Linked DNA regions of Homo sapiens. The protein of the gene in region 3 purifies or fractionates together with the protein of the main gene of each other region. This does not show direct contact. Each region holds a gene or a part of one and is shown on either strand. Other genes may lie near its edges. The genes, in order: SUB1, EFL1, SP3 and GRHL1.

What was found.
Region 1: the proteins of SP3 (region 3) and SUB1 purify together in Homo sapiens (affinity purification with western blotting, with the first as the bait; one study listed by BioGRID). This does not show direct contact.
Region 2: the proteins of SP3 (region 3) and EFL1 fractionate together in Homo sapiens (co-fractionation; one large-scale study listed by BioGRID). This does not show direct contact.
Region 4: the proteins of SP3 (region 3) and GRHL1 purify together in Homo sapiens (co-immunoprecipitation; one large-scale study listed by IntAct). This does not show direct contact.

Annotation. Positions count from the first base shown.
Region 1 is NC_000005.10:32,595,282-32,602,556, forward strand, and holds part of SUB1 (activated RNA polymerase II transcriptional coactivator p15), read left to right. Parts: intron 1-3,679; coding exon 3,680-3,788; intron 3,789-5,723; coding exon 5,724-5,803; 3' UTR 5,804-7,275.
Region 2 is NC_000015.10:82,127,397-82,135,173, reverse strand, and holds the end of EFL1 (elongation factor-like GTPase 1), read left to right. Parts: intron 1-4,612; coding exon 4,613-4,801; 3' UTR 4,802-4,941; downstream 4,942-7,777. UniProt on the Homo sapiens protein: GTPase involved in the biogenesis of the 60S ribosomal subunit and translational activation of ribosomes.
Region 3 is NC_000002.12:173,955,099-173,962,373, reverse strand, and holds part of SP3 (transcription factor Sp3), read left to right. Parts: intron 1-6,141; coding exon 6,142-7,275. UniProt on the Homo sapiens protein: Transcriptional factor that can act as an activator or repressor depending on isoform and/or post-translational modifications. Binds to GT and GC boxes promoter elements. Competes with SP1 for the GC-box promoters.
Region 4 is NC_000002.12:9,948,893-9,956,931, reverse strand, and holds the start of GRHL1 (grainyhead-like protein 1 homolog), read right to left. Parts: upstream 5,240-8,039; 5' UTR 5,099-5,239; coding exon 5,079-5,098; intron 5,021-5,078; exon of another isoform or gene 4,637-5,020; intron 4,631-4,636; exon of another isoform or gene 4,469-4,630; intron 2,018-4,468; coding exon 1,831-2,017; intron 1-1,830. UniProt on the Homo sapiens protein: Transcription factor involved in epithelial development. Binds directly to the consensus DNA sequence 5'-AACCGGTT-3'.

The DNA.
Region 1 (7,275 bases), on a different chromosome or scaffold from region 3:
ACGCCTTTGTGGCCAGACCATTTTCATCACCCCAGGAAGTTCCTCTTGGCTTTACAGTCATTGCTCATGTCCTAGGTAATCACTGATCTTATTTCTACCACTATAGATTTATGTTGTCTCTTCTAGAACTTTGTATAAATGGATACATGCAGTCTATTTTTTGTGTCTGGCTTTTGCTCAGTATAATGTGTTGAGATTAGTTCTTGTTGCATATATCAGTAATTTTATTGCTGAGTAGTATTTTGTATGATAATACTACAACTTGTAAATCCATTCACCTTGGGTGGACATTGGGATTGTATCAAGTCTTGGGCTATTAGGAATACAACTGCTGTGAATATTCTTGTACAAGTCATTTTGTGGACATTTTTTCCCTTTTGGGTAAATACCAGATACATTTGCTGAGTCGTAGGGTAAATGTGTAACTGTATAAGACACTGTCAAACCATTTTCCATAGTAGCTGTAGCATTTTACACAGCCATCGGTACTACTTAGGAGATTCCAGTTGCTCCACATCCTCGCTAGATATTGTCAGTCTTTTAAGTTTTTTTCTTTTTAGTTACATTGAATGTATAATGGTAGCTCATGGTGGTTTTACTTTCCATTTCCCTCATGTACATGTCTTAATTCATTGTACATCTTTAGTGTGTTTATTGGTTATTTTTATATCTTTTGTGAAGAGTATCTTTTGGCCACTTAAAATGCCAGGTCATTTGAGTTGTAACACTTTATATATTTTGTCAGATGTAAGTATAATTAATATTTTTTTTAGACTTCAGGGAAACTTTAGTTTTCAAAGCAATCTAGTTCAAAAATGAGTGGAGGTTAACAGAGAGGAAAATATGAAACCAGAGAGAATCAAACAGACAGAATAAGGGGGGACTGGCAGTTGGTCAGGGGCGTCTGTGACAGATCTTCTCTCTCTTGGAAATGAGGTCCTCACGGATTCTGGTCAGTTCATCATTTTCTTCACGTCCACGGTTCTGCTTCTTCCTCAGGCTCTCCTCGAAGGCCAAGACCCCTGTGGCTCCAACTTGAGTGAATATTTTCTTTAGGTTTCTGGTTTACCTTTTTATTTTCTGAAGCATCTTTTTAAAAAAGGCTTTAGTGTGATTGTCTATTCTATCGATTTTTCTCCTTTTTTGCTTAATGCTTATTTTCTGTCCAAGACGTATTTTGCCTACCATGGCCACAAAAATTTTTGCCAGTGTTTTTTCCTAGAAGTTTTATAGTTTTAGTTTTCACATTTAGGTCTATAATTCATGTAGAATTAATTTCTCTGTGTATGATGTAAGATAGAGATTTAGAGTCTTCCCCACCCCAAATGCAGATAGCCTGTTGTTTCAACACCATTTGTTGAAAAGAGTATTCTTATTCCTTTGAATTACCTTGGATTTTACCCCCTCCCCCCAAAAAAATCAGTGAATATATCCAATGCGTGTGTATTTTTTGACTCCGTTGTGTTCCACTGACCTCTTATGTCTGTCTTTACTCCAGTACTGCATTGTCTTCCCTTACTATATTATAGTGAGTCTTGGAAAGTGCTAAGAGACACTTTGTTGAGGAAAGCCTGTTCTTTTCTCTGGAATTTGTAATTTGTGGTAAGCAGATATATAAGATTTTTGAAAAATAATTTTCTGTGAATATTTTTAAGTTCTCAATCTGACTGTGAGTGAGGTGCATTAAAGATGTTATTTGAAGTGAACATGAAAAGGAAAAACTTGGTTGTTATTGACTGGAACTCTGGATTCGTATATTCAGAATGGTTGGTGAAGCAGTGTAGCTAGTTGCATCTGTGGATTCCTCTTGGTTGTAGTTTGTACTGCAAAATATTGCTTCCTAATGATTTTTTTTTTTGCTGGTAAAAACCATAAAAGTATATTCACATTGTTGTGAAACAGATTGCCGAAACTGTTTCATCTTGCAAAACTGAACCTCTGTGGCCATTAAACAACAGTTCCCCTTCTCCCAGCCCTGGTAACCACCATTCTACTTTTTGTTCCTGTGAACTTGACATCATGTAAGTGGAATCATAAAGTATTACCTTTTTCCTTTTTATGACTGGCTTATTTCATTGACGTAGTATGTAACAGGATTTCCTTTTTTAAAAGCTAATTGATATTCCATTGTGTGTCTATTCCACCCCCCCTCTCCCATTTTGTTTATCAGTTCATCTCTGGGTGGATATTTGTGTTGTTTCCACTTCTTGGCTCTTGTGAATAATGCTGCTATGAACATGGGTGTGCAGATGTCTCTTGGAGTCTGTGCTTTCAATTTTTTGGGATATATATTCAGAAGTAGGATTGCTGGATCATATGATAGTTTAAACAGCAATTTCCTTTGGTTGCAGTTTTGATACTGAGAGTAGTACAGTTGACCCTTGAACAATGCAGGGTCAAAATGCAAGGCACCAACCCCTGTGCAGTTGAAAATCTGGTTATAACTTTTGACTTTGTCAAAACTGCTAAGTATAGCCTACTGTTGACTGGTAGCCTTAACAGTAACATAAACAGTTAACATATATTTGTATGTTATATGTATTATATACTGTATTCTTACAATAAAGTAAGCTAGAGAAAAGAAAATATTACTAAGAAAATCATAAGGGAGAAAAATTACATTTTACTGTACTGTATGGTGTTTATCAATAACATTAGTTTACGTTGTCTGTTTATAAGATATGTCATCTGTTAATAAAATATGTCATCTGTTAGAAATTGTAGGCAACCACAGCTGCAGATTTCAGTCCGTGGTACATATCAAGCAATTCAACTTTTTTATTTTTATTTTTATTTTTATTTTTTTGCATTTTAAAATTAAAGACAGGATCTTGCTGTGTTGCCCAGATTGGATTCAAGCTCCTGGGCTCAAGTGATCCTCCGGCCTCAGCCTCCTGAGTAGCTGGGATCATAGGCATGCACCACTGCTTCTGGCAGTTTTTTTCTTGTGATGTCATGCCTTCTCTCTGCTTCTTGGGAGCACTTTCAGCATCACTAGGGGCACTTTGTATAGGACTCATGGTGTTATTTAAAGTTTATGGTATTGCAGTAATCATGATGAAAAATAATGTGAAAACCGTGAGAGATCACTTTTTACTGCAATACGCAATTTGTTGGAGACATGAACTGCTCAGCAGAGATGATTAGCATCACATGGTGTTTTACACAAGGTGTTTTAAGCAGATACTTGTAACATTTGAGTACACTGAGATAACAGGAAGTGGCTATGAAGTTAACACTAGTACACTACTGTAGTTAATTTTATGCAGTTATGAATTAATACTCCATCTTTGTTTACATTTCTCTCTAACTTCATATAATAGATTTGTATGTTTTATGATAGTAAGTGATAAAATAACCTCATATCTAGGTATGTTTTATGCATTCATGACATACCTAACTTTTTCTTAATGTTTTCGTTATTTCTAGGCTATGCAGTTGTTCTGTGAGTTTTTTCAAATTGTCAAGTCTGCAAAAATTTTTCCAGTATATTTATTGAAAAAAATATGCATATAAGTGGGACCTGCACAGTTCAGAGCCATGTTGTTCAAGGGTCAGCAGTAGTCATTTTCATGATTAGATGTAGAGTGAGCATGCAGCAAGTTGTGAATATGAATACAATTGAAACAGATACCACTCTTGAAAGGAGCACCTCTTTTTATGTTTGTTTCTTTTGCAGATTGGGAAAATGAGGTACGTTAGTGTTCGCGATTTTAAAGGCAAAGTGCTAATTGATATTAGAGAATATTGGATGGATCCTGAAGGTGAAATGAAACCAGGAAGAAAAGGTGAGGTCTAATTACTTGAATTTTATTACAGTGTTAGGACTAAACGACAACTTTTCTGAGTAGCTTACTTGAAATGTTGGCAGGACACACGGGGCAAGGAAGAGTCTTACTCAATTGATTCTCTATCTTCTGTAGTTATTTTGGACATGATACTTAACATTTTTTTAATGAGATGTCTTAATACAGCTTTTGGGAATAAAACCCAGAAAAGTAACACCCCTAATATCACTTCAGTTGGCTGCTAATTTACTTGAACAATTTTTAAAAAGGTTTATGCAATTCTGAAGCAGATTAGGCACTATCTGGGAACTTGTAAAATCAGGAATGGAAAATCTTGGTTTACAATGCTTCCTTTTGATTCAGCTCCTAAAAGCTATTCTTTAGGGCATTACTCTTCAAGCGGATCTCTGCTTTCCTTCCATTTGTGCTTCATCCAGTCCCAAGCCTCTTAGCATTGTAGAAACATATTTTGTATAATTCACCAAACAGCTAGAGAAGGTGAGCCAACCTAAATTTGTATATTTGGATTGCTGCTCTAGGTTGACCCTCAGCTAAAGAAAAATGCTTCCTTATTTAGTTTTATTCTGCCTGCCTGTTAGTTTGAAAGGTACCACTTGTTTGCTTCATGCAGTTTTTTTTTTTTTGGTTAAACTCAGCCTCTATATGTGTTTATATGCTTTCATATTTTCTTCAAGTCACTTCTGGATTGGTAATTCACGTACCAGAGTGGCCGATGCCATATTTCTTGTTTATTCTTTTTTTTCAATTTCATGGCCTTCCAGCAGTTTTCTGGGAATACTTTCTGCCAGTTCTTGTTTACTTCTCTGTTTATATGCGTCGGTATTGGAATGCTAGAACGTTAAAGTACAAAATATAGAAAATATAAAATTTCTGTTCATACTTTTACATCTTAAACTGGAAAGACATATCTCACATTTTTTAACCATTTATGTGTTAGGTGATATGCTAAGTTCATTATTCATGTTACTTAATCATTTACAACAACTCTTTGGCGTATAGATGCCATTTTACTGGTGAGGAAACTAAGGCTTACAAGGTGATGTAGTTCTTTTTTAAGGGTCATACACTTAGTGAAAGTGAGGCTGGAATTTTAACCCTGATAGGGTGACCCTAGAGTGCAGTTACCCGGGTATACTCTCTGAGGAGTCCTGTATGAATCACGTCCTGGGAATTTTTCCAAAGTGAAATGAATGCTTCTGGAAGAACTCAGCACAATTGGCTTGAATTCCTGTGGAAATTTTGGGCAAATATTGGAACCAGCTGGAAATATAGTAATGGGGTATCACATGCCAAATCTGGACCTGACCATTTTAGCCTGATAGTTGACGGGTATTAGTAAGATGTGTCTTCAAACCCTTATTTATTCTCATTGGTTACAATAGGTACTATGCAGGATGCACTGTGGAAAGTAAGACTGGATATGAGATTGATAATGCTCAGTAAATTGTGATGATATGTAATTAACAAATGTAAGAGATATGATTTTCAGTATTGTAGCATTGTGTCCAAGTGGCAATTTTTTTTTTTTTTTTAGATGGAGTCTTGCTCTCTTGCCCAGGCTGGAGTGCAGTGGCATGATCTTGGCTCACTGTAACTTCCACCTCCCAGGTTCGAGCAATTCTCCTGTCTCAGCCTCTTGAGTAGCTGGGATTACAGGTGCCCACCACCATGCCCGGCTAATTTTTGTATTTTTAGTAGAGATGGGGTTTCACCATGTTGGGCCAGGCTGGTCTTGAACTCCTGACCTCAAGTGATCCACCCGCCTTGGCCTCCCAAAGTGCTGGGATTACAGGTGTGAGCCACCGCGCCCAGCCTAAAGTGGCAATTTTGATAAAACAGTATTCTAGTTGGAAGTATGAAAATCCTCAACGCTTAAATAGATTTTCACCTTTGAATTTTTAAACTTTGTTTTAGGTATTTCTTTAAATCCAGAACAATGGAGCCAGCTGAAGGAACAGATTTCTGACATTGATGATGCAGTAAGAAAACTGTAAAATTCGAGCCATATAAATAAAACCTGTACTGTTCTAGTTGTTTTAATCTGTCTTTTTACATTGGCTTTTGTTTTCTAAATGTTCTCCAAGCTATTGTATGTTTGGATTGCAGAAGAATTTGTAAGATGAATACTTTTTTTTAATGTGCATTATTAAAAATATTGAGTGAAGCTAATTGTCAACTTTATTAAGGATTACTTTGTCTGCCCACCACCTAGTGTAAAATAAAATCAAGTAATACAATCTTAACTGTTGTGGCCTTTTTTGATCATAAGAGTTGGTACTGTTTAAGGCCAAAAGTAACAGTTTTTATAGATCTTTTAGTTTCAACTCAGCTTTTACAATAAAAAGGATTTGTATTGCATTGAGTTTATAAACTTTTGGTTTGTGAACTTCATATTTGATCTTTTCTCTTCCAATCAAATGTCTAGGCTTGTTTGACTTCCACCCCCAATGGTTTTTCACTCTTTTTATTTACTTCATTTTCCTTTAATAACTTAATCTCTTCATGTTCAGTTTTTACTTCACTCTTTATTCTTTTCTTTGATTATGGTATGCTTATTTGGAAAGTCAGTGAAACTGTCAAAATGTTATCTCAATAAGATACTTATATGAGAACTACAATCACCGAATCTACTGTATTCAATATTAGCAGATCTAATTTGATAAACAACATGGCTTGTGTGAAAACTGAGCAGGTGTTTGTTTACCCATAGTGTTCTGTGTAGTTATTGCTTAGTCTGCAGAAAATAATGACTTAGATGAGATGTCTGACTTGCTTTCACTTATTAAACATGTTCACCATGGGATGATGTCTGTAACATCAGATATTGTTCAACTAGACTAGGATTTAATAAAAATTGTGAAAGCTTACTGGCCTAACATTTTATTTTATAATATTGGGTATGAATTATATGTAGCCAGAGATGTCATTAAGCTTTACTGTTATAGTAGGTAATATGGTTAGTTTGTAGGGAAAAGAGCATATGAGCACATGCTTGTGTATTTTGGCCTTTGCCCCAGTAGAACAGACCAATGGCATTCTAGACTTGATGATACTAAGTTTTAGCAGACACTAGTAAGTGGTTTGTATTTAACCATACTGATGAAGCAGACAGATTGAGGCACAGATTTTAGTGGCTTTGTGGCAATAAATAGGGCATGGTGTGCCTTAGGAAAAGAATGTTTATAAAGGGAATTATAACTGAAATTAAAGGAGGCGGCAGTGAAGAGGAAATAATTCTCTTCTATCTAAATGATATACATATGATATTTTGAGATTTTTATAACAGCAGTGGAACACAATTCTAGGTAGAGTAGAAAAAGGAAAGTTTTAAAGACATATAAAAGATTCTTGTTGACAAATTATTTTTGGTAGCAAATCTCAAATGGTTACCTGCTATTAAGGTCTGCCATATTAGAGTTTTGCACTATTTTGCTACCAAGTTTGATTCATACATCTAAAACATTTT
Region 2 (7,777 bases), on a different chromosome or scaffold from region 3:
AGTTTTGCCCCAGTTTTGTACCATCCTTCTGCCATGTCCTTGCCACCTGTCGTGGTCCTGTTCCCAAAAGCTTCAAATCTTTGAAATCTTAAAAACTACATTATAATTAAATGTCATTGATCTGATATATTTTGGCTGTCTTGGTTTTTCCCCCATAGTTAGGTTTAGAAATAACACAGTTGTTGAGATATGGCTTCTCACTCCAAGGCACTTCTTTTCATTTGTATTCTACCACACCATATAATTTACAATCAAGAGCTTTTGAGAGAAAGTGCTTCAAAAAATAGAGAAAATAAAATTACAGGCATTTTTCCATGAGGAAACCTTTGAAGTCAGCAATCTCATAATTTCTCTTTCTATGTTTTACCCTTCTATGAAAAAGGAAGAAAAGGAGCTAATAACAGACACAGAAAGAAAAAATATTACCAACCAGTGCTGTTGTACATGTATGTCAGCATAACCTCAAGATTCATCGCTTATTACTGAGATTACCCTGAGGGGTGGGCTAAAGTTCATACCGGGTGAAGTGATTACAATAGCACCAAACAAGCTTATTTTGGACATGGTATTTTCCACCTGCCAGCAGTAATCATCGTGAAAACTGGGCAGAAAATTGAAATGGAGCACCCAGAGCTTTTTCCTTCTAGGCTTTCTTTTCCCTTAATGCCTAGGGTAACAGTTTGCACTTGGGTGCCTTCTTATGATTAGAAAATGGCATCCCCTTCAGGCTGTTGAATTGCAAAAATACATTCTCACTCTAGGCCGATGAATTCTGGGTGAGGCAGTGAGGGAAAAAAAAAAAGCACCTTTTTCTTCAGTTTGATATCAAGCCCCTCTCTGTGGCCTGGAGGGTCCTTTCTGTAGAGCACAAGCTGGACAACCATAAAAGGGTAGCCTTGTCTTTGCTCCACTAAGGAAATTCAAAACCAGCCTCGAGCACTCGAGTGTTACTCCATCTCCCCTGTTCTCAGAGTTTGTTGGGTATGTTGAGGCAAGTGGCTTCAGGCTGTCCACACAGATGCAGGAGTAGTGAAGATGTCTTCATACAGTCATATGATATTGGGACTTTTAACATTCCATCCTTACAAATAGAAGAACCCAGGTATAAATGGTTCGAAATAAGCTGCCCAAGATCGCACAGCTAAGCAAGTAGGGAACTGGCATTGAAGGGAGACTGCCTGGCTCCAGAGCCAGTGCAGTTGACCCTCACACCACGTTCACTCTGGCCTCAGTGCCTGCTCCTGATTCAGTGAAGTGCCAACCCCCGACTCCTCACTCTCTGGGTTTGATTCCACACAGACTCACTTGGTTCTTCTCGCTCATTGCAGTCTCTCTGCCTGTTTCCTCGCATATGAGGAAACAGACACCACCCCTCTCACCCTGTCCTCCCACCAGCAAAGCAGAATAACCAATTCTGAAAACAGTTTGTGTTTCTTATGAATGTTGAGAATTTTACCTCCAGACAAAAGAGAATTATAACTTGTGGCCGGGTGTCTTAAAAAGAATTTGTTAAAAAAATTACAATAGTTTTTTTCCATAGGAAGTTACCAAAAAATATGTACAAGGAGGTCCTATGTGCCATTCACCCCTCCTTCCCCAATGTTAACATCTCTTACAGTACATTGACATTGATACACCCATAGCACTTGTTCAGGTTTCACCAGTTATAATAAATGCACTTGACTTAGCTAGTACCATTGTGCAATTTATGTTTGGATAAACTCAGTCTTCATGGCAGTCTGCAAACATGGCAAAGGGCAGGCTTTGGAGCCAGACAAATCTAGGATATGCCAGGTGCTTTACCATATGACTTTCATATAATATCTTCTTCAGTCTTCACAACAACCCTGTATCAGTTGATAGATTATGAGTGTTTTCAGCCGCAAGAACCATAATGCCAGAATAGTAATTGTTTAAGCAAGTAGGGCTGGTACCATGGCTCAGGGACACCATCAAAGATGCAGGCTCCCTTTCTTCTGCTCTGTATATTCATGGGAGTTTGTGTGTCTTTAGTGCTATAAAAGTGTATTACATATGTAGCTTTATGTAATCAAGATACAGAATTGTTCCATCACCACAGGCTCCCTCATGCTCCCCCTACATAGCTACACCTACCCTCACCCTGGGTGGGTGGCTTTTGACCAGTCAGGCTGTTTTGAGTGGCAACCACTTTCCCTCCCTTCCTCCTGCCCAGGCCCTGAGCCCATACTGACTCAGCCCTACTGGTATCGTGTTGACATTGTTTGCTGGTGAATGATCTGGAATGAGCCTTTCTATCCTAGGCCCAGTGGCTGGTGAATCAGAATTGAGTCTCTGGGACTGTTGTGCCCACAAAATTATAGCACAAACCCTCTGACCCAGAAGAACCCCCTCAGATGACCAAGTCCACAGGACTGAGCTTCCTCCCCACTCCTCCTTCTTAACTGCCGTTTCTCGTCTAAATTCCATCCATTCGCCCTTGTCTGCCACTCTGCCTACCCCCCCCCCCCCCCAATTCCTGGACCTTGTCTCCTTTTCTGCCCCTTGTTGCCCAACCTCTAACTGGGCTCCCACTTCGAGACGCTCCTTAGACTTGCTGTCACCCACCAGAGTTATTACTCTAGTGCTGATAATGCCTCTGTGCCCCCTGGCTGCTCTCACTTCTACTGTCTGCCTTTTCCTTCCGGGGACTCTTTTTTGAAAGGATATTTCTAGTTCTTTTGTTGAGTGTCCATGAGAGGTAATATGTTTTAAAGTCTGTCCAACAGAGGCTTTTTTTGGTTCGCTGATAATGGTTTATTTAACTAGATAAAGACGTGTAGGCTCACACTGAGGCTCCTTAGCACTCTGAAGGACTTCATTGTGTCCCAGCAACTGCTGTTGCTGATGCGAAGCGTCTCGTTGGTCTGATTCATGTTCTTCTCTAGATCTGGCTTTTCTCTCTGATTTTCTCTGTACCTGCCTCAGCACCAGGACACAGGCAGCTGCTTTGTTTCCAACCTTTGTTCAAGAGCAAGAAGCACAGTTGTGGCTCACACCTCCCATTCTATAGTGTCTAGTGGGTCAGAATCGAGCCTCAGGAGATGCAGGTGCCCACAGATTTCCAGCATTTCAACACTGTCACAAGGGGTGGATTATTTTATTATCTTGGTCCAGACTCAGTGAGGTTTTTCCATCTGAAGACTCTCATCCTGTTCTCTGTTTTTTGGTTTTAGAACTCCTGTTAGATATACCCTATACATACTTGATGGCTCTTGACTTTCCTTTGAGACTTTTTTTTTAATCTCCATCTCTCTGTGCCGTATTCTGTATTCAGGGAAATTTCTTTAAGTCTCTCTTTTTAAAAATAATGTACTGAGGTGAAATTCATACAACATAAAATTGAACTTTTTTTTTTCTTTTGAGACAGAGTTTCACTCTTGTTGCCCAGGCTGGAGTGCAATGGTGTGATCTTGGCTCACCACAACCTCCACCTCCTGGGTTCAAGAGATTCTCCTGCCTCAGCCTCCCAAGTAGCTGGGATTACAGGCATGCGCCATCAAGCCTGGCTAATTTTTTGTATTTTTAGTAGAGACAGGGTTTCTCCATGTTGGTCAGGCTGGTCTCAAACTCCTGACCTCAGATGATCCACCTGCCTCAGCCTCCCCCAAACTTGAACATTTTAAATAAACATTTTGCTGCATTTTTCCCATTCACAATGTCATGCACCCACCACCTCCAGAAAAAAAATTAAAAATTAGCTGGGCATGGTGGCATGCACCTGTAATCCTAGCTGCTTGGGAGGTCAAGGGAGGAGGATCACTTGAGCCCAGGAGATTGAGGCTACAGTGAGTATGATTGCACCACTGCCCTCCAGCCTGGGCAACAGAGCAGAACTCTGTCTCTTAAATAAAAAAATATATGTAATAATAATAAGAGTGTAGTTACATGTGTTGATCTTTGTTGAGGTTGAGGACAAAGGCAAAATATTGATGGCAAAGACATTAACATTCAGATATATCCTAGCAAAAATGAAAGCTTTTAAAAATTATATTATGAAAAATTAATAGTTTTCTTTCTTCCTTAGTGTTATGAACTGGCGCTAGGAGCAAAGAATAATAATGTATGTTACAAGTTTTGTTGAATCTACTTCCATTTGTTCACACCTCCCATGATTCTTCATACTTTTTTTTTTCTTTTTAAGTTGGAGCCTCACTCTGTCGCCCAGGCTGGAGTGCAGTGGCATGATCTCAGCTCACTGCAACTTCTGCCTCCCGAGTTCAAGTGATTCTTCTGCCTCAGCCTCCCTAGTAGCAGGGACTACAGGCACATGCCGCCCCACCCAGCTAATTTTTGTTGTTGTTGTTGTTGTTGTATTTTAGTAGAGACGGGGTTTCACCATGTTGTCCAGGCCGGTCTCGAACTTCTGAGCTCAGGCAATCCACCTGCCTTGGCTCCCAAAGTGCTAGGACTATAGGCGTGAGCCACCACACCCTGCCGATTCTTCATACTTATTACCATTCCTAGCAAGCTTAGCTGTTCATTGCCTAACTTTTTTTCATTAGCTAAGACTATATAAATTGGGGAGCTCAGTGAATAAGGTTTGAAATTAAAAATGCCTAACCTTGCACATTCTGTCATCTTCTTTTACAAGATCATTCCCAGTGACCCCTTCTGGGTGCCAACTACTGAGGAGGAATACTTGCACTTTGGGGAGAAGGCTGACTCTGAGAACCAAGCCCGGAAGTACATGAACGCAGTACGAAAGCGGAAGGGGCTTTATGTGGAAGAAAAGATTGTGGAGCATGCAGAAAAGCAGAGGACACTCAGCAAAAATAAGTAGCTACCTACTACTGGTGGATTCTTTTCCTTATAGTGAATTTAAAAGTATCATCAAGGGTTTAATATTGGGAAAATTTCTTTTTGCCACATTATCTCTGTTTATTCACTTTCAATAAAGTTGATCCATATAAATATTTTAAAGAGGATGTTAGAGAACATGTTTTCCAAGTGTGTTTTTAATTGGTTCTGGTTCAAGGCAAGAAGTTATAAATATTGCAGTGATGATTTATGACTGCCCTGTGTATAACCCCCAGCAGTAAGACGTGTGGTCAGGGCTACCCTCTTGGTGGTGGGGAGGTGATGTGCAGACCCACAGTGGGCAGTCTCCTCTGCACTGAGCGGCCACTCCGGGGCTCACACTGTCTCTGCCTGTCATCACAGTGTCATAATTCTGAGTACATCCTCCACATAAACATCATGTGTGAATTTCGGAGTGGAAACATTTCATATTTAATCAGTGAATCAGAGCATTTAACATTGTTTGGAGAGACCGCATACTTGAGAGAGCAGCTGCTTTTTAGTTAAACCAAGTCACTGTTACAGCTCATCCATCTTATGGTGTTGTCTAGCAAAACAGTATCATGTTCAATAGTTAGCCTGTAAATCTTCTGCTTTTACACCCACTCATAAATTTTATCATTCCTATTTAAATCAGTGTTAATGGGTGTTATCCCTGTACCTTTTTCTTTTTTTTTAAAAAAAGGTAAATTTCTATAATTTTATTTGCTATTTCCTTTTAGCCTTACTTAGCTAATGTGCATGAGGTTATGGCTTTATTGTAAATATTTTTTCTAAATCTCAGTTGCCTCCTTCAGGGTGATCTTCATTTAAGGAGCAAATGCAGTTCAGACAAAAATAGATTTTATATTTTTTGATGTTGCATAATAATTTTTATAGCCACTTAAAAGAAGGATTCCTTTTCATAGCATAAAATTATCAGACCAGACTTTGTTTTTGAAATACTTTAATGGGTTTTCTTAATAAACTAGGTCATTTTTAATACTAGTTGTAGACATTTTATCTCTAAATCTTCAGGGCCCTGGCATAGCTGGTCAAATCTAATTGGCCTAGACTTTGGGGAAAATGTGACTGGATAATTCACTGTCTGTTTAATTTCAACAGATAATAATATATGAGTTAGTTTAGGAGAGTTATATCATCTATTGGTTTATTTGAAAACTTTGATAACATAGGAAAAACTAGCACTTCGATTTATAGCATTTGTAAATAACATCATTCAAACTGCCAGATGTGCTATAAAATGTATACTTAGATCAGCACATTTTGCATTTAATAGAGAAAAGAGGCATAACCCAGAAAAAGTTGGAGAAAAAGTTGCACTTTCTGCAGTCTGTTGGGCCCTGACAGATGTGCCAGTGTGGGGGAAGTGACATGTCGAGTTGATAGATTGTCTGTCTTCCTTCTCCATGTTTGAGAGAGGTAATAATGAGCAGGAAAGTGGCCACAAAGAGGCAGACCAAGGGATAGAGCCAATCTACCATCTAAATAATCTACCTTATTGTGTAATTCATGACGAGACCTCAGTCATTGAAACCCTGTCCCCTTCTGTGACAGCATAGTAAGACTACGTTTGTACTGTGCCCAATGCCATGTCCAAACCCTAGCCTCTGTTTGTTGAATTCAGTAGAAGCCAAGCAAAATGTTGTCAGTCCACAAGTAGAAGTGAGAGTGTTCCTGTTCTTACAGAGGGGCTGGCTTTGTACACTCATTTATAGATAGGCTTCAGAGACAGTGAGGAAGGCTAGGTTGAGGAAGCCACAAAACCACGGCTCTCACTCCTGGAGAATTATTTGTATTGAGGTCCAGAGGCAGCTATCCTTCTGCTCAGGGGACAGGCATAGGCAACACCAACATAATGCCTTTTCCCAGACATCCTGGAGTCGGTGGGTGAGGGGAGGAGAGGCTGGGAAGGGCCTGGGCTCCAGCCCCCACTGGAGGATGAGCTGCAAGTAGCATGGAGACCATCACCATTGCCCTCTGATTGGGAGGCTGTGAAGAGCCTGTTTTCCTGTATCAGATTTTCCACAGACTGGAAGGGAAATTCCCTTCTATTGGGACTTTTGTGAAGAATGCCTGGCACCGGAGAGGGCAGTTCTTCTGCCTCAGCCTCCTGAGTAGCTGGGATTATAGGTGCGCGCCACCATGCCCAGCTAATTTTTTGTCTTTTTAGTAGAGACAAGGTTTTACCATGCTGTCCAGGCTGGTCTCGAACTCCAGGTGAGGGACTTTTTATATGTATTTGATCCTCACACTTGTTGTATGAAATGGGCAAGGAAATTCATTAGAGCCTGGCGAAAGTTAAGTTTACAGCCCACGGTCCCATTTTTCATTCCGTCATACCTCTTGGCAAGCTCTGCTGTAGTGCATCACACAAGGATTCCCATGATTATTGCCTGATACATGTTAGGATCAGAGAAGTTATCAGTAGATGCTGAATATTCACTATGGTAGAGGAGGACTTGGGGGCATCTTTATTTCTATTCTGCCTTGAACTTAGGTAAAGCTACCAGTGTCCAAGGTACAAAATCATTATCTGGACTGACTCAGTTTTATTGACCAGTAAGTTTAGAAAAATAATGGAATTCAGAAATTAGGTTAACCTTTGTACTTGGAGCTGAGAATAGGGACCTAGATGTAAAAGATCTCTTTTATTCTACCTTAGAACAGCCAAATAAGGCTCAGAGCTATGGTGAGCTTGTCCCAGGAGTCAAAGCCCTTCAGGTGAACAGATTATCAAATCTGGGAATTAGAAGGTCTTCTGTTGTCAAGTAGTCAAACTCTTCCTTTCTTATTAAGGCAAAGAACATTATACACTTTCTGAGCTAGAAAAAAATTCATTAAAATAAAAACAAGAATTTATTTATTTATTTATTTATTTATTGAGACAAGGTCTCTGTTGCCCAGGCTTATTAAGGCAAAGAACATTATACACTTGCTGAGCTAGAAAAAAAATTCA
Region 3 (7,275 bases):
AAAACTACTGCATAAGTAAAATTAAAAAGCAGATTGCTTCTCCTGATCTTTTTTGTATTTCAAATGGAACAAAACTTTTCTTGTAACTGTAATTTGTAAAGTTTAGATATCAGTTTACAGATGGGGGAGGGGAGAAGGAAGGAAATATGGGTGAATAATATGTGTATGTACATACATATGTGAGTCTGAGGCCCAAGGATAGAATACTGTCTCCAACCTTAGCCAGCTGTGGCCATATACTTGTAGGGAAGTTTCCATGCTTCTTCAGCTGCTTTTCTGAATTACCAAATCACTCCTGACAACACATATTCTGCCACATGAAGACGAACTAGAATCAATCTGATAAATCTGAGATTTATCAATCAAATACATCATAATTTGCCAATCATAGTAAAATGAAAATAGTTTTGCCTAAAAAAAAAAAAAAAAAAAAAAAAACCCAAACCATATATTTATGATGTCTGGTACCTGCACCCAAGATTTTTCACTTTGAGTAAAATTGGTAAGACTGGCTTGTGTGTATTTGCCTTAGCAAATAGAAAATTTGCTAAAAATTTATTTTTCCAGTGCAAATATGAACTTAAGACATCTTTTCAGCACATCTTAGAAAAGGAAATTCACATGAGTTCATGGGCTTAGATAATCTTTTATTACTCAAATGACTGGGAATTATGAGAGGTTATAGCTGTGTTTTTAAATAATTGTATTTTGGAATAATTTTAAATTTATAGAAAAGTTGGAAATACAGAACTGAGTAATCTCATACCCTTCATCCAGCTTCCCCTAATGTTAGGATAATGATGATACATTTGTCCAAATTAAGACATGAACATTGGTATGACATTACTAACCAGACTTTGTTTGCGTTTCACCAGCTTTTCCACTAATGTCCATTTTCTCTTCTGGGATCCAGTCCAGGATTCCACATTGCATATATATTGTTGTGTTTAAACAAGTGGAAATATACACATACAGATGAACTTTATGCCAGTTTAGCTTGGTATTTTGAGATTAAAAGGGCCTTGAAAAGCCAATCAACTGTGCTGAAGATTGCTTTTAATATTTGGATTTTGAATTTGGAATTTGTCATAAAAGAGGATCCTAGCCAAGGGTGTTTGGTTACCCACAGTACATTGCTGAAGAAGTCTAGTCATAAAGCAGTCTCGTATATAATGTCGTACAACATGGACTCTGAAAGATGGTTTTATAGCAACGCTCCTTTGTACTTAAGTTGTGGCTAATTTTAGTAGTAAACCAGGAAATAGAAAAAAGTAGACCTTTGTGCAAGTATTAACTTTGACCAGTTTGCATTTATGTGAACTTGTGGATTATTAATTTACTTCATTTTTACTTTAGTGGAATAAAATAAGTGACTTTTATTTTTATTTTTATTTTTTTGAGACAGAGTCTCACTCTGTCGCCCAGACTGGAGTGCAGTGGCGCGATCTCGGCTCACTGCAGGCTCTGCTTCCTGGGTTCACAGCATTCTCCTGCCTCAGCCTCCCGAGTAACTGGGACGACAGGCGTGTGCCACCATGCCCGGCTAATTTTTTTTTTTTGTATTTTTAGTGGAGACAGGGTTTCACCGTGTTAGCCAGGATGGTCTCGATCTCCTGACCTCATGATCTGCCCACCTTGGCCTCCCAAAGTGCTGGGATTACAGGCGTAAGCCACTGCGCCTGGCCTAAAATAAGTGACTATTATGAAAGTGATTGCTTGATCTTTGGTTTAGGTTGTAAATTTAGTGTTCCTTAATTTGGCACATAAATGTTGAGCTAAAAAATAAGTAATAGCTTACTTCAAAAAAGTTATTTTGCCATTATTTAAAATAAGACCTGTGCTGTCATTGTAACTAATTCATTGGGTAGGGTAATTCTATTTGAAGTCTGAGTTCTTTTAGTGCTCTTTGAAGATTTTAAGAAACTTGAATATTTGCCTAAGTTCTTAATTTGTTTCCACCTCAGCTTCACACCTGTTCTTGTTTCCAGTTATACTCCTTCCTTTCCTATTTCTGGCTTTCGTAAAGGCATTCGTGGGAACTAAGTTAATAATCATTTCCAAATGCTATGCAATAGGTGGTGTGAATTTTTTCTTTTTCCGTTTCCACCGGTATATTTGTATGTAGAGAGACTTAGAGTGCCTTAGTTACAACTTTTTACTGTACTAATGCCAACATTCATGTTAGATGGTGTTTTGTTTGTTTTTTGAGAAAGGCTCGCTTTGTCTCCCAGGCTGGAATGGAGGTGTGTGATTACAACTCACTGCAGCCTCAACCACTGGGGCTCAGTTGATCCTCCCACCTCAGCCTCCCTAGTAGCTGAGACTACAGGCACGTGCCACCACGCCTGGCTAATTTTTGTATTTTTTGTAGAGATGGGGCTTCGCCATGTTGCCTAGGCTGGTCTTGAACTCCTAGACTCAAAGGATCCACCTGCCTAGGTTTTGTTTGTTAATTGTCCGGTAAGAAAGGTACTGAGAGAAACACTGGTGGATTTTTAATTTGGTTTGTAAACTTACGTAGACATAGGTTATGTAGAGGATTATCTTGCTTCTAAACCAAATACTAGTTCTCGTCTTGGTTGCCTGTTTTAATTTTTTTTATTTTTATTTTTATTTTTTTGAGACTGAGTCTCGCCCTGTCACTCAGGCTGGAGTGCGGTGGCGGAATCTCGGCTCACTGCAATCTCCGCCTTCCAGGCCCAAGCCATTCTTCCGCCTCAGCCCCCAGAGTAGCTGGGACTACAGCCCCAGAGTCCCAGAGTAGCTGGGACTACAGATGTACACCATGCCCGGCTAATTTTTGTCTTTTTAGTAGAGGCGGGGTTTCATCATGTTGGTCAGACGGGTCTCAAACTCCTGACCTCAAGTGATCTGCCCGCCTCAGCCTCCCACAGTGCTAGGATTACAGGCGTGAGCCACCGGCCCTGTCACGGTTGTACGTTTTTAAATCTCCTTTTATTCTTTTGTTTCTGTAGTGTTTCCAGTAGTCTAACATCAAACATTTTTCAAACTTTTTTTTTTTTTTGGTCTCAGATGATTTTCTAATTTATTCCTCTCCCATTTGGTATTTAGTGTACTTTATCTCTTTTAGTGGTATATTGCTGATGAAATTTCTTTTACAAAGAAATTTGATTGTGCTTTGCAAGGCTTTGTAGTTTTGAAATATTTGGAGCTGATTCATTGTGGAATTGTGGAAATAAATAGGCTTAAAATTGGTTTAGACTTTTTCATAGAAGGCTCTTAATACCTCAAAATTTGTTTTGATCCATTCTGTCATTGTGTTTGCAATGATTTTAAAGTAAAATAACTTTTCATTCAGTAAATATATATTGATCTTACTGAGTGCCAGGAATTGTGCTAGGCTAATTTTAATGGATGTTTTTCAAATCTATTCTCATAATCTTAGCACTCACAATGATCTTGGGATTGCACAGTGCTCAATAGTTTATAAAATTTAATATTTTTCTTCTGATTCTTATGCCCCTGCAAGGTAATGTTTTTCCGGTTGTTGACATGAGAAAATTGAGTTGCTGTAACTCACACAATTCCACAGTGTAGCCAGAACTAGAACTCAGTTCTGAGCTTTTTTTTTTTTCTTGTGTAATATATTGTCGAGTGTAGTTTTGGCATAAATCATCTAGTAGTTTTCTGATTCAATGTGTTTTTTCCATTCCATTTAGAAAATAGGGTATTCAGCAAATTTTTTTAAAACTGCAAATTTATTAAATTAAAAAAGTTCCTTTTCTTGCTTGATTCTTTTCCTTAAATTACCTGTTGCTTTTTTTTTTTTTCCCCCATCGTTGTGCTTCACAGGTATTTTAATAATGCTTTTCATTTCAGGCTTATTCAGAAAAGTTCGGAATACATCACTTTGCTCTAGGTTTAGAGATTTTCCTTCAATTAATGGCCTGAATTGCTGAGAAAAATGGCACTACAGTTTATTTTTATCTAGCTTCTGGAGAGGGGATGACTTGGGCAATATTTACTCAGATTTGTCATTTGCGTTAGCTGTATTTATTTTCAAGGAATTTCTTGACTAGAAAGCTGTTCAGTGATGGTTGAATATCTGCCTTTATTACTATTTTGTAAAAAAAAAAAAAAAACACTTTAGGTGCTGTAAATTTGACTTTGTTTTTTTTAAAGAAAGGAAAAGGGACAAAATGCCAGTATCATAAAATTAATTTGTGTCTGAGTTACTATATTCTTTGATAAAAGTTCAATACCTGTAAATTTTATGCTGGTCAGAAAAAATTTCAGTGGATCCTCCAGGTGAGCAATAACCTTAAGAAGATAAAGGTTAGATTTTAGACACACTTTAGTGTAGATTTTAGTATATAGATTTAAATATTTGTAGTTTACTTAAAATGCCAAGAGACCGAAATGAAACATTTGTCACTGTAATGTTAGGAAAGGTGACTTAACATTGTAATTTCTATACCAGATTGAAGTTGCAGAGTGACATGTGACTTTAATGTCTGATGCTTCATTTTAAAATTGTTTAGTAAATATAATTTAAGTGTATTTAAGACAGATCGCTATTTTATAGTTCAGGCCTAGAGATTTGTATTGGGTTCCACAATTTCTCAGCCTTTAGTCTCCTCCCTTTCTTTCAGTCTCCTTCATTGAGCCTTAGTTTATCTTTATAAGACACAGATGTGATTGCACCACTCACTTGCTTATAAACCTTTTATAGCTTTCACTCACTATCTACAGGATAAAGTCTAAACAATTTAGTGGGATCTGTGAAGCCATTTACAAGCGTTGATAAAAATATCTAGTCCTGTTCCCCATTACTTTCCTCTATGAATATGAGCCTTTTTGGGATCTTTTCTTCAACTCCAAACTGCATATTATTATTTAGGGTTTCTTTTTGTGATTTTATTGTTTCTATGCTTTTATTAGTGCCTCTTTTTTAACTGACTACAGGAAAATCTTATATTCTAATACTACTTTATCTCTGTATGAAATCTTTTTTTTCAATCTTGTGTCTTCCACAGAGTGTTTTGATCATATGACTAGTCTGTGCTACTTTTCACATTGTATTAGCATGGATGTGTGTATGTCTGCTTGGATTGACAGTGAACCGTTTGAAGATTGGGATTGTATGTCATGGGTTTACTCACGTGTGTATTTCATCTTGGTAAATTACGTTCAAATGTTTGAATTCAGTCATTTAACTGTGGTTCATCCACTGAAATAACTGTATATATTTCTCAACTATGTCTTCATGAAAATTAGGTAGTGAGTTTCTTTAAGAAACTTAAGATTTTTTTGTTTATCATATTTGCATTAAGTTTTATAGAATGGTTTATGTTGAGAGAACTGTGTATGTCTCAACTGATTTTTATGGTCCCATTGAGATTCCCATTGAGAATATAATGAAACCCTAGATTATCTTTCTCTCCCTCAAATTGTATTAATACACCAGAATACAAAAGGTATATGCCAGACATTCTACTGAAAACTTAGACTAGTAAGTAAAGTCACAGTGTGTATCCTCCAGCTTCTGATCCTAGAGAAACCTTTCAAATGGGGCTACGTTGTCATGTGGTCACAGGGCAATGACTTTTTCTCATTAAGTTTTTTTAAGGTCTTTGTTTTTCATTAGTTCATGGAAAAAGTAGAGTTTGATAGCTTAATGGAATAGCCCTAGCCATGAGTTTACTTTAGAGTATGTTAATAGATGCCACAAAAGAGTAGATTTCATTGTTTGATTTTAGGCTTATAGCAATAAATCTTTTCTAAGTCGGATGACTTAATACACTATGCTTATGTTTCCTTTTTATACACAAATATAATGCACCTGATTTGGTCATAGCCATCTCCACTGTTTTGTTTTGTGTTTTAACTGTGTAGTGTTAGAGATCATAGATGCAGGATTAGAAAATTGGTCTGTGGTTGTGATGAACATTCCGAGAATTTTTTTTATCCCACTCAAATAGGATGAATTGTCTTTGCAGTAACAAAACTGGAAGTGATAATTATTGTAGTTCATATAGTACTGCTCCTGTATTTGAACTCCATTGTGTTTTAAGATAAGTTGAATTTTCAGGTAGTAGGATTTATACCAGTTTTTAGAATTTTTTGAGGGTTGATTTAAATATACCACAAATATATCACCTTTTTGTTTTCTTCATCCAGACAGGTGATTTGGCTTCTGCACAGTTAGGAGGAGCACCAAACCGATGGGAGGTTTTGTCAGCCACACCTACAACTATAAAAGATGAAGCTGGTAATCTAGTCCAGATTCCAAGTGCTGCTACTTCAAGTGGGCAGTATGTTCTTCCCCTTCAGAATTTGCAGAATCAACAAATATTTTCCGTTGCACCAGGATCAGATTCATCAAATGGTACAGTGTCCAGTGTTCAATATCAAGTGATACCACAGATCCAGTCAGCAGATGGTCAGCAGGTTCAAATTGGTTTCACAGGCTCTTCAGATAATGGGGGTATAAATCAAGAAAGCAGTCAAATTCAGATCATTCCTGGCTCTAATCAAACCTTACTTGCCTCTGGAACACCTTCTGCTAACATCCAGAATCTCATACCACAGACTGGTCAAGTCCAGGTTCAGGGAGTTGCAATTGGTGGTTCATCTTTTCCTGGTCAAACCCAAGTAGTTGCTAATGTGCCTCTTGGTCTGCCAGGAAATATTACGTTTGTACCAATCAATAGTGTCGATCTAGATTCTTTGGGACTCTCGGGCAGTTCTCAGACAATGACTGCAGGCATTAATGCCGACGGACATTTGATAAACACAGGACAAGCTATGGATAGTTCAGACAATTCAGAAAGGACTGGTGAGCGGGTTTCTCCTGATATTAATGAAACTAATACTGATACAGATTTATTTGTGCCAACATCCTCTTCATCACAGTTGCCTGTTACGATAGATAGTACAGGTATATTACAACAAAACACAAATAGCTTGACTACATCTAGTGGGCAGGTTCATTCTTCAGATCTTCAGGGAAATTATATCCAGTCGCCTGTTTCTGAAGAGACACAGGCACAGAATATTCAGGTTTCTACAGCACAGCCTGTTGTACAGCATCTACAACTTCAAGAGTCTCAGCAGCCAACCAGTCAAGCCCAAATTGTGCAAGGTATTACACCACAGACAATCCATGGTGTGCAAGCCAGTGGTCAAAATATATCACAACAGGCTTTGCAAAATCTTCAGTTGCAGCTGAATCCTGGAACCTTTTTAATTCAGGCACAGACAGTGACCCCTTCTGGACAGGTAACTTGGCAAACGTTTCAAGTACAAGGGGTC
Region 4 (8,039 bases), about 160 Mb from region 3:
TCACCCTTCATGGACAGACATGAGGATTTACATGCTTCTGAGACGCAGGAGTAGTACACCTAGTGTTATCACACGGGCCTTTCTGGCACAAAACTTGTACCAACGAGTTTCTCCCATTCTCAAAAGTTTCAGTTAAAAATATGTAACTTCATAATTAATGTTTTAGGAACTTAATTTATAGTAAGTCAATAAAACAAGCTATAAGAACAGATATATAATAATTTCCACTTCAAAGGAACTCTTCATGGCTATGTTTCCCTGGTAAGAGTTTCTTCTAGCATCATTAGTTATTACACAAGTTTCTGCTCATATTCAAAGAAAAAAGAGCTTACCTCAATCCCTCAGCCCCAACTTAGTTAGACGCATGGCCTCATACTAGGAAATAATCACCCCATTTTTTTTTTTTGAGATAGGGTCTGTCTCTGTCACCCAGGCTGGAGTGTAGTGATATGGCATGATCTCAGCTCACTGCAGCCTCCAACTCCCAGGCTTAAGTGATCCTCCCACCTCAGCCTCCTAAGTAGCTGAGACTATAGGCATGTGTACTAACCGGCTAATTTCTGTATTTTTTTATTTATTTATTTTTGGTAGAGACAGGGCCTCATCATGTTGCTCAGGCTAATCACCCTAATTTTAATAATAAAACTATCTCCTAGGCTTCTTTCACCTCTGTATTTCTTGTATTAAGGAAAGAATACAGTGCCAGAATGTAGCCAATGGCTAGCAACTGGCGATTCTGGGTAAAGGTATTCAGGAATTAATTATCCTCTTATTTTAAGTTTTATGCAGGTTTGAAAGTTTTTAAAACAAAAAGATAGCAAAAATAAACTGTAAAAAATATACACTACATTCATGAGAAGACACTGTCATTAAGAAGCTTCTGGTAATCCCAAACAGATCCTGTTTTTATACAGGTACTGATGACAACACAATGATTACACAGGTTAGTCACACAGAGTGACAATGAGACAAAGGCCCTGTGGCAAAGCTGTGCTTCAACTCAGTCTGCTGTTTTAAGTAGCACCCTAAAGACGTAGCCACCCCCAAATGTGTGTTTCTGGTCAGAAGGAAGAATGGAGAGGTGAATCCAGAAGGAGAGCGGTATGCACGCTGCATTAGAAAGACAGTGGCCTCGGCCATGGACCAGACTAGGGCCCCAGATGCACACATCCTAGCTGTGACCTCTGAGTGAGAAGTCGCACGCAGGCTGGTAACATGTCTAGCATAATAGTGGCAGCTAGTGTTATCAGGACAATGATGATGAGACAAATCAGTAGTGTCACTTCCAGATAATGAAAATCATGTAAAATTCCATGCAGAGTATAGATTATATTTAATTAAGAGTACTCCAAATCTCTAGAAACAGGCAACAAAACATATCCTGATCTTGGAACTGGACAGTCCTAGACTACAGAATATGATTTCAAAGGCTCTGTAGTATCATTTAGGGAAAGGAAATCATCCTGACTACCCAGGAACAAAGGTGAAAAGGTAAATGACCCCTGCCCACTTTCCATGGCACTAAGAACCACCTTCAGTGAGATGCTCAAACCCAAGAAGGCACATCTAGCATCTTCTTTTACGGTAGCTTCACCTTCTGGATAGAGCCACAGCAGCTGACCGCTTTGCATGTTTTAAAAACAACCCTTTGATTCTACAATCACAGATTTTTAGCTTCGAATCACAGTAAGTCAAAGTACTCATTAAACTATTTATAGTCACTACAGAAGCAACTTGCATGGCATTCTACCAGCAAATGTCTGTTTCTATGCTGCTGAATCAAGTGCATTGGAGACTGCTGTTAAGGGTTTTAAAGGCAGGCAAACCCACCTTGTAGTAGTCATAGAGCAGGCCCAGCGCAGCGGCGCTGTCTTCATCTCCATTGATGCTCATCATCGCTTTGGTCGCTGCAGTGAGAGGGTTTTCCAGGAAGGATTTCCAGGCCTCATCCTCACTAGTGTAGGACCGCCGCTGTGGATAAAGTGCTTCATTCTGAAGAACCAACACTGGCCGTTTGCTTCAGAGAAATTAAAAAAAAAACAAAAACACACACTTTTCTACTGCAAGGTATCATAAGCTACCAATTCCTTGACATTCCTATAAAATAGCCTATTGTTTCATCAATGACCCTAGGAAGTCAAATTAAGACAAGACCAGAAGACAAACCACGTAAGTGCAGACCAATGGGTCCCACAGTAAGACATAAAGTATCTAGGCAGCCAGAGAACTGGCAGTTCACCTACACGTGGAACCCAGGGTATACTATTTGGCAAAAAAGCGAAACAAAACCATCCCCGAGAAAATGCCAGGCTATTCAAATACTTTCCATAAACAAACACAAGGACACAGTAAAGAAAAGAGAATACTTGTTCTCTTCCAACACACAATCAGGACTGTCCCCTCTTGAGAAGAGCGTGTGCCGTTCATCACACTGCTACATGTTATTCCCTCTTTCTACTGTGGCTGCCATGCCTTAAAAATTCCTACCTGAACACAGTGGGGAGGGGAGAAGCAGCAGAAAGAAAAAGGGATCCTTCACGCAATCCTCCAGGGTATATGAGAAAGCCAGAATATTCTACTGATTACCAGCAGATTGAGCATGGAATGTGGCCAAAGGGGACTGTAAATCAATAAAGAGGCATAATTTTCTGGCATGGGAGTTAACTGTTTATCTTAGAGATAAACACTTAAGGATATCCAACAATAAATGAAGCCACTGAACAAAAAGTTTTAAAAAAAATAGGTGGGAAAATCTGGCTTTTAAAAAATCTTTGCTAGTTTTCCACATTGCACAAGAACTGTTTCATTTTAACACTGTAGTTTGGTGGGAAAAATCCAAAAAAATCAATGGCGATCTTAGTGAAACCTTACAGAAGATTTAATTTAAAAGATTAAAGCAAACATTACTAATTCCAAAAACTTGAAATGTAAACAGTCTCAACAACTGTTCGGTTGGTACTATTTAATAAGTCAATAAAGAGAAAAAATGGAACACTGACTCTAGCAAAACAAAGCAGTTTATTTTCAAGGAGAAAAATAAATTTTAAATGTTTGGAACTCCTCTGAATTATTACAATTCTAACAAGCAAATTGAAGGACTGGCTCTCATTGCAACACACAAATGAAATATGTAAATGGCCTAAAGGTGACCTGCCTATTTTAAAAGTGAATGTAGAAAGACTGATTATCTTTTCAAGTAATCAACAAAGGTTAGCGTTTGGGAGTCACCCAGGGCCTTTAAGAACAGATACAGATTTAGAAAAAGGAGAACATCTTCAAAAAAGGGGAAAAAAATCCAACAATGTATCCTCAGTCAAAATGAAGTGTTATTTGAAAGCCAATGTTTTTACTCACGTTTTGGCATAAACGTTACATTTGGTAAGAAAGTCTTGAGGTGGTATACTATTTTAACACAAAACAAACATAAAAGACTGTTCAAAGCCAGCAGATCATTTGTCTAAAAATGGAGAAGATTGCTTACACAAATCTCAACTTTAAAGAAAATAAAGAAATATACAAAGTGGCATTCCCTGAGCCATCAGGACCAGAGTACAACAGCTACTGAACGGCTGGTGCCATGGACTGATTGACTGATGTACTGCTAAGCTATAATTAATAGCGTAATAGCTACTTCCAGAAGACTATGACAGCACTTGGCTGTTCAATTCCCTTAATGCTAGTTTTCAACTTCCCTTCTTCTCCCACCCACATCCCAAATTTGTACAAGCAATAGAAAACAGAGAAAGAAATGGCTTTATGTTTGGAATCACCCTGAAGGTGTTTCATATTTCCAAAGCCTGCCTAAGGCCAAAATGTTAGCTTTGGAAAATTTGCCTTATCTAAACTATACGTCAAGAAATAAACACAAAACCAGTTGCCTTTCTTAGTCCACTTCCTCATGACAGTCAGGAAGTAGGCTTCAGTCGCCGAAGGCTCATCATCACTTTCAGGTGAGCCTTAAACTCCGCGTCTGCGATCTCTCAGACTTCTGAAATATGTTTCAGGCAATAATTTAACTGCATATTCTACAACATAAGAGTAATCCATTTAAGATACTCCATACAAAATATCTATCTCATCCAGAAAAAGAACACACTGACAAAAACCGATCCTTCACAAATAACTAAGAAACTGGGAGGGGTACCTATCTGCCTTAAACTTCCTGATCTGAAATATACTGACTGGCCTGGTGCGATTTCCCTGTTTTTTCTTTAGTAAGTTTTTAAAATTTTTAGGACAATTTTATATTTTCAGAAAAGCTGCAAAGAAAATACAGAAAACTCCCTCGCCCAGTTAATCCCCCATGCCTTATTACACTACCACCTCACATTTGTCGAAATACGCTTTTAAATCACACACTCTAAAAAGCATATTAGCTTGTACAGTACTTTCTCGTTTAACACCCGGATTTCAAAGTTTCATCCTCTTGATTCTCTCGAGCACTAAAAACACGGTAATCTGTAATTACCATCAATGATGCAAGTGGCAAAATAACTCCTACAGCCGTTTTCCCACTCATGCCGCCAGCCAGGGAAAAGAAAACGCCCGGACATCGGGGCACTTCAACCTTTCCCTACATTTCTGTTTTGGAGGTTCCAGCAGGTCGCCGAGTGACGAGCCTGAGACCACAGATTACCTGGAGAAGTCCACCTGTCCCGACGCGGCGCGAGCCCCACCAGGCTCCCGAGGCCGACCGGGCAGGAGAGGGGGGCGGGGAGGCCCGGGGGCGTTGGCTGCGCCCCGACCTCGCGCCGCACCCGACCGCGCCGGGGGCCCGGACCCCAAGGTGCGCGCCCGAGGGGACCCAACCTGGCCGCGGAGGAGGGGAGGAGGGTGGCCCCTCCGGTGTCGAGTTTCCCCGAGGACAGGGTCTCTCCTCCCGAGGCTCCGACCGAACAAAGAGCACGGCAGGGCTAAGGGGCAAAGGCCGTGGCGGCGTGGAGTGGACAGCGGCCCCCGGCTCGCGCCCCGCGCCCGCCCGCCCGCGCGGCCTCGGGTCTGCGCCCGGCTCGCTCGCTGCAGGTGCGGCCCCTCAGCGCGGCCCCCCCGCGGCGGCCGGACTCCTGCGCCTCACTCACTTGTCGTACTCCTGTGTCATCGCGCCCGCTCGCCGCTGCCGGGCCGCAGAACTGGACTTTCGGGTTGGGACAGTACACCCGATCCGGGGGGAGGAGGCGGCGGCGGCGGCTGCGGGTCCGGAGCGGCGGCCCCGACGGGTTGGGTTTGCTTTTCTCGCTCTGAGCCGGCTCCGCGCGGGCTGCGCGCACTGGGCGCCGGGCTCGGCCGCTCATTGGCTGGCGATGCGCCGGCTGGGGGCGAGGCCTCGGGGCTGGGAGGCCGGTCGCGCCTCCTGATTGGTCGGCGAGAAGAGCGCCGGGGCGGGGCTGACGGGGACGAGCGGCGCGGGGCGGGGGGCGGGGGCCGCGCGTTCCGCGAGGTTGCGCCCGGGACTGCGCTCCCGGGGCTGCGCGCCCGACTCGCGGCCGTACGCGCCTGCCCTGACAGGAGAGGGAGCGCTGCGGCTGCGGCGCGCACCCGCCAACCTCCGCGCGCACCGAGAGCGCCCCCGCTCGCGCCCCGCCACCGCCCCCGCCGCCCCCGCCGTCCCCGCCGTCCCCGGCCATCCCCTTCGCGACGAGCCCCGGCCGTACAGCCGCCTCCTTCTTCGCTCACTCAGGCCTCCGCGCCCCGTGCCCACATTGCCCGCTGTTCCGGCCCCAGCGCCCCGCGCTGCCCCTGCGCTCGCCCGGCGGGGGCGCCTCTGCCGGTCGCCGCGCTCCCCGGTCGCGCGTCTCACCTCTCGGTTCTCGCAGGCTGTCACGCCCGAGTCCCGTGGCTTCCCCCGAGAGCCGTCTCCGGAATGTCCCTTCTCCTGGCCCACCGCGGCCGCGCGCTTTTAGGATTTCTTGCCCTCGCAGCTCCCGCGGTCCCCTCGGCGGCAGTCCCTGGGGCTCCGCGATGTCTGTGCCCCGCAGCCTCCCGGGCGCCACTTCCCCGCGCGGCCGCCCCACGCTGCCCGTGCAGTCGCGCGCCCCGGGCCGGCCCCGGGCACCACTCCACCGCGACGGCCCCCACTTGTCCTTCCCGAGCTGCCGTCTTTCCCAGGGTCCGCTCACTGAGTCCCCACATGCCCAGCGTCGGACCTGACCCTCGGACAGGCGCGGCCCCAGACGCCGGGGACAGGGCAGTCAACAGAACAGACACAACTCCTCGCCTTCCTAGTTGGGGTAACGGGCAATACAAAAACAAGTAAATGGTGTGGCTGGTTGGAAGGTAAAGCAGGCAGGCCCTGGGGAGGCGGGGAGGAGCGAGGCTTTCAGGCTTGAAGGAGATGAGGGGCCACGAAGGTGGGACTGTACCTGAGGCAGGGACCCTGGTGTGTTTTGTGACCCTTGAGGAGACCCGGGTGGCTGGTGGGGCACAGGGAGGCGGGAGCTGCGGTCAGAGATAGTGGGCGCAGGGGAGCGGATTGAGCAGGGCCTTGCCGGCTTCCGTAAGGACTGTGGCTTTCCCTCTGGGCTAGGTGGGGACGCCTTGGAGGGGCTTGGAGCAGGGTAGTGACAGGGTCTCACATTTTAAAATAGTTCTCTGCTGCTGCGTGGTGGGGACCAGGTAGGAGGCCATTGCCATGATGCAGGCCGAGGGCAATAGAGTGAGGTGGTGGGAAGTGGCCGAATTCTGGATATGCTTTGAAGGTGGGACCAGCAGGATTGTCTGAAAATTGGATATGGGGTGTGAGAGAAAGAGAGAATCAAGGATGACTACAGCGTTTCCAGCTGGGCAACTGGAGGAATGATTTGCCATCCCCTGGGATACAGAAGACCTGGGGCATAGAAGATTTGGGGGAGAACGAGAGTCTGTTTTGGACGTGCTAAGCTCAAGATGTATGGGAGATAAAAATCCATGAATCAGGTGGGCTCCTGGGTACGAGGCTGGAGTGCAAGGGAGAAGTCTGGGCTGAAGCTCACATCTGGGCGCCGCCCACGTCTAGAGGCCATTTAAAGCCATGAGAAGGCAGGAAGGAAAGAGGATGGGACCCATGCTGGATCCAGGAGCCTCCGACACAGAAAGGCTGGGAGGAAGAGCCAGTGGAGGAGACAGAAGACGGGGACACCGAGGTCGGAAGCAATGGAAGCGTGGAAGCCAAGGGAAGGAGGTGAAGTGAGGAGCAGCATGAGGTCACAGGGCCCTCCTGCAGCCAGCAGTCCCTCCTCTGTGCCCTGGTCCAAGGCCTTCAGGGACCGGAATCGGCAGCCTCACTTGAGACCGCCCTTCGCAGTTTCTGTCCTCTGACCCCGGGCCCAGCACTGGATCCATGCAGCCTGTTGTTTGTTCTTACCACTAGTTTCCTGTTTAAATCATTTATTATTTTTTTCTTTTCCTTTTTTTTTTTTTTTTTTTTTTTGAGGCGGAATCTCCCTCTGTTGCCCAGGCTGGAGTGCAGTGCCGTGATCTCAGCTTACTGCAACCTCTGCCTCCTGGGTTCAAGCGACTCTCCTGCCTCAGCCTCCCAAGTAGCTAGGATCACAGGCGCCCACCACCACGCTCGGCTAATTTTTCTATTTTTAGTAGAGATGGGGTTTCACTAAGTTGACCAGGCAGGTCTCAAACTCCTGACCTCAGGCAATCTGCCCGCCTCGGCCTCTCAAAGTGCTGGGATTACAGGCATGAGTCACCGCGCCCTGCCAAATCAATTATGTTTTCTAAGCACGCTAATTTAAGAAAAATGCTAGTCAATAACAGCACAGATGGTCCCAAATAGGGTACAAGTCATCAGGGTGGTGCCAAAGTGACTGACTTGGGAACAGTGTCCCTCTACCTGCCTTTCTTCTATTTCCTCTGACCCGGCTCCACACTGCCACTGGAGTGGCCTTTATAAAACACAGATTTCTTGTCACTCAGTTATACTCACCATAAAGTCCACACTCCTGAGCTCAGCCTCCCCTTGGCGGCCCAGCACTTCCCTTACTGCTCACTCCCAAGCACCGTCCCCGCATTCCCTGCTCCTTCCCTCCATGCTTGGCCCACTCCACTCAACT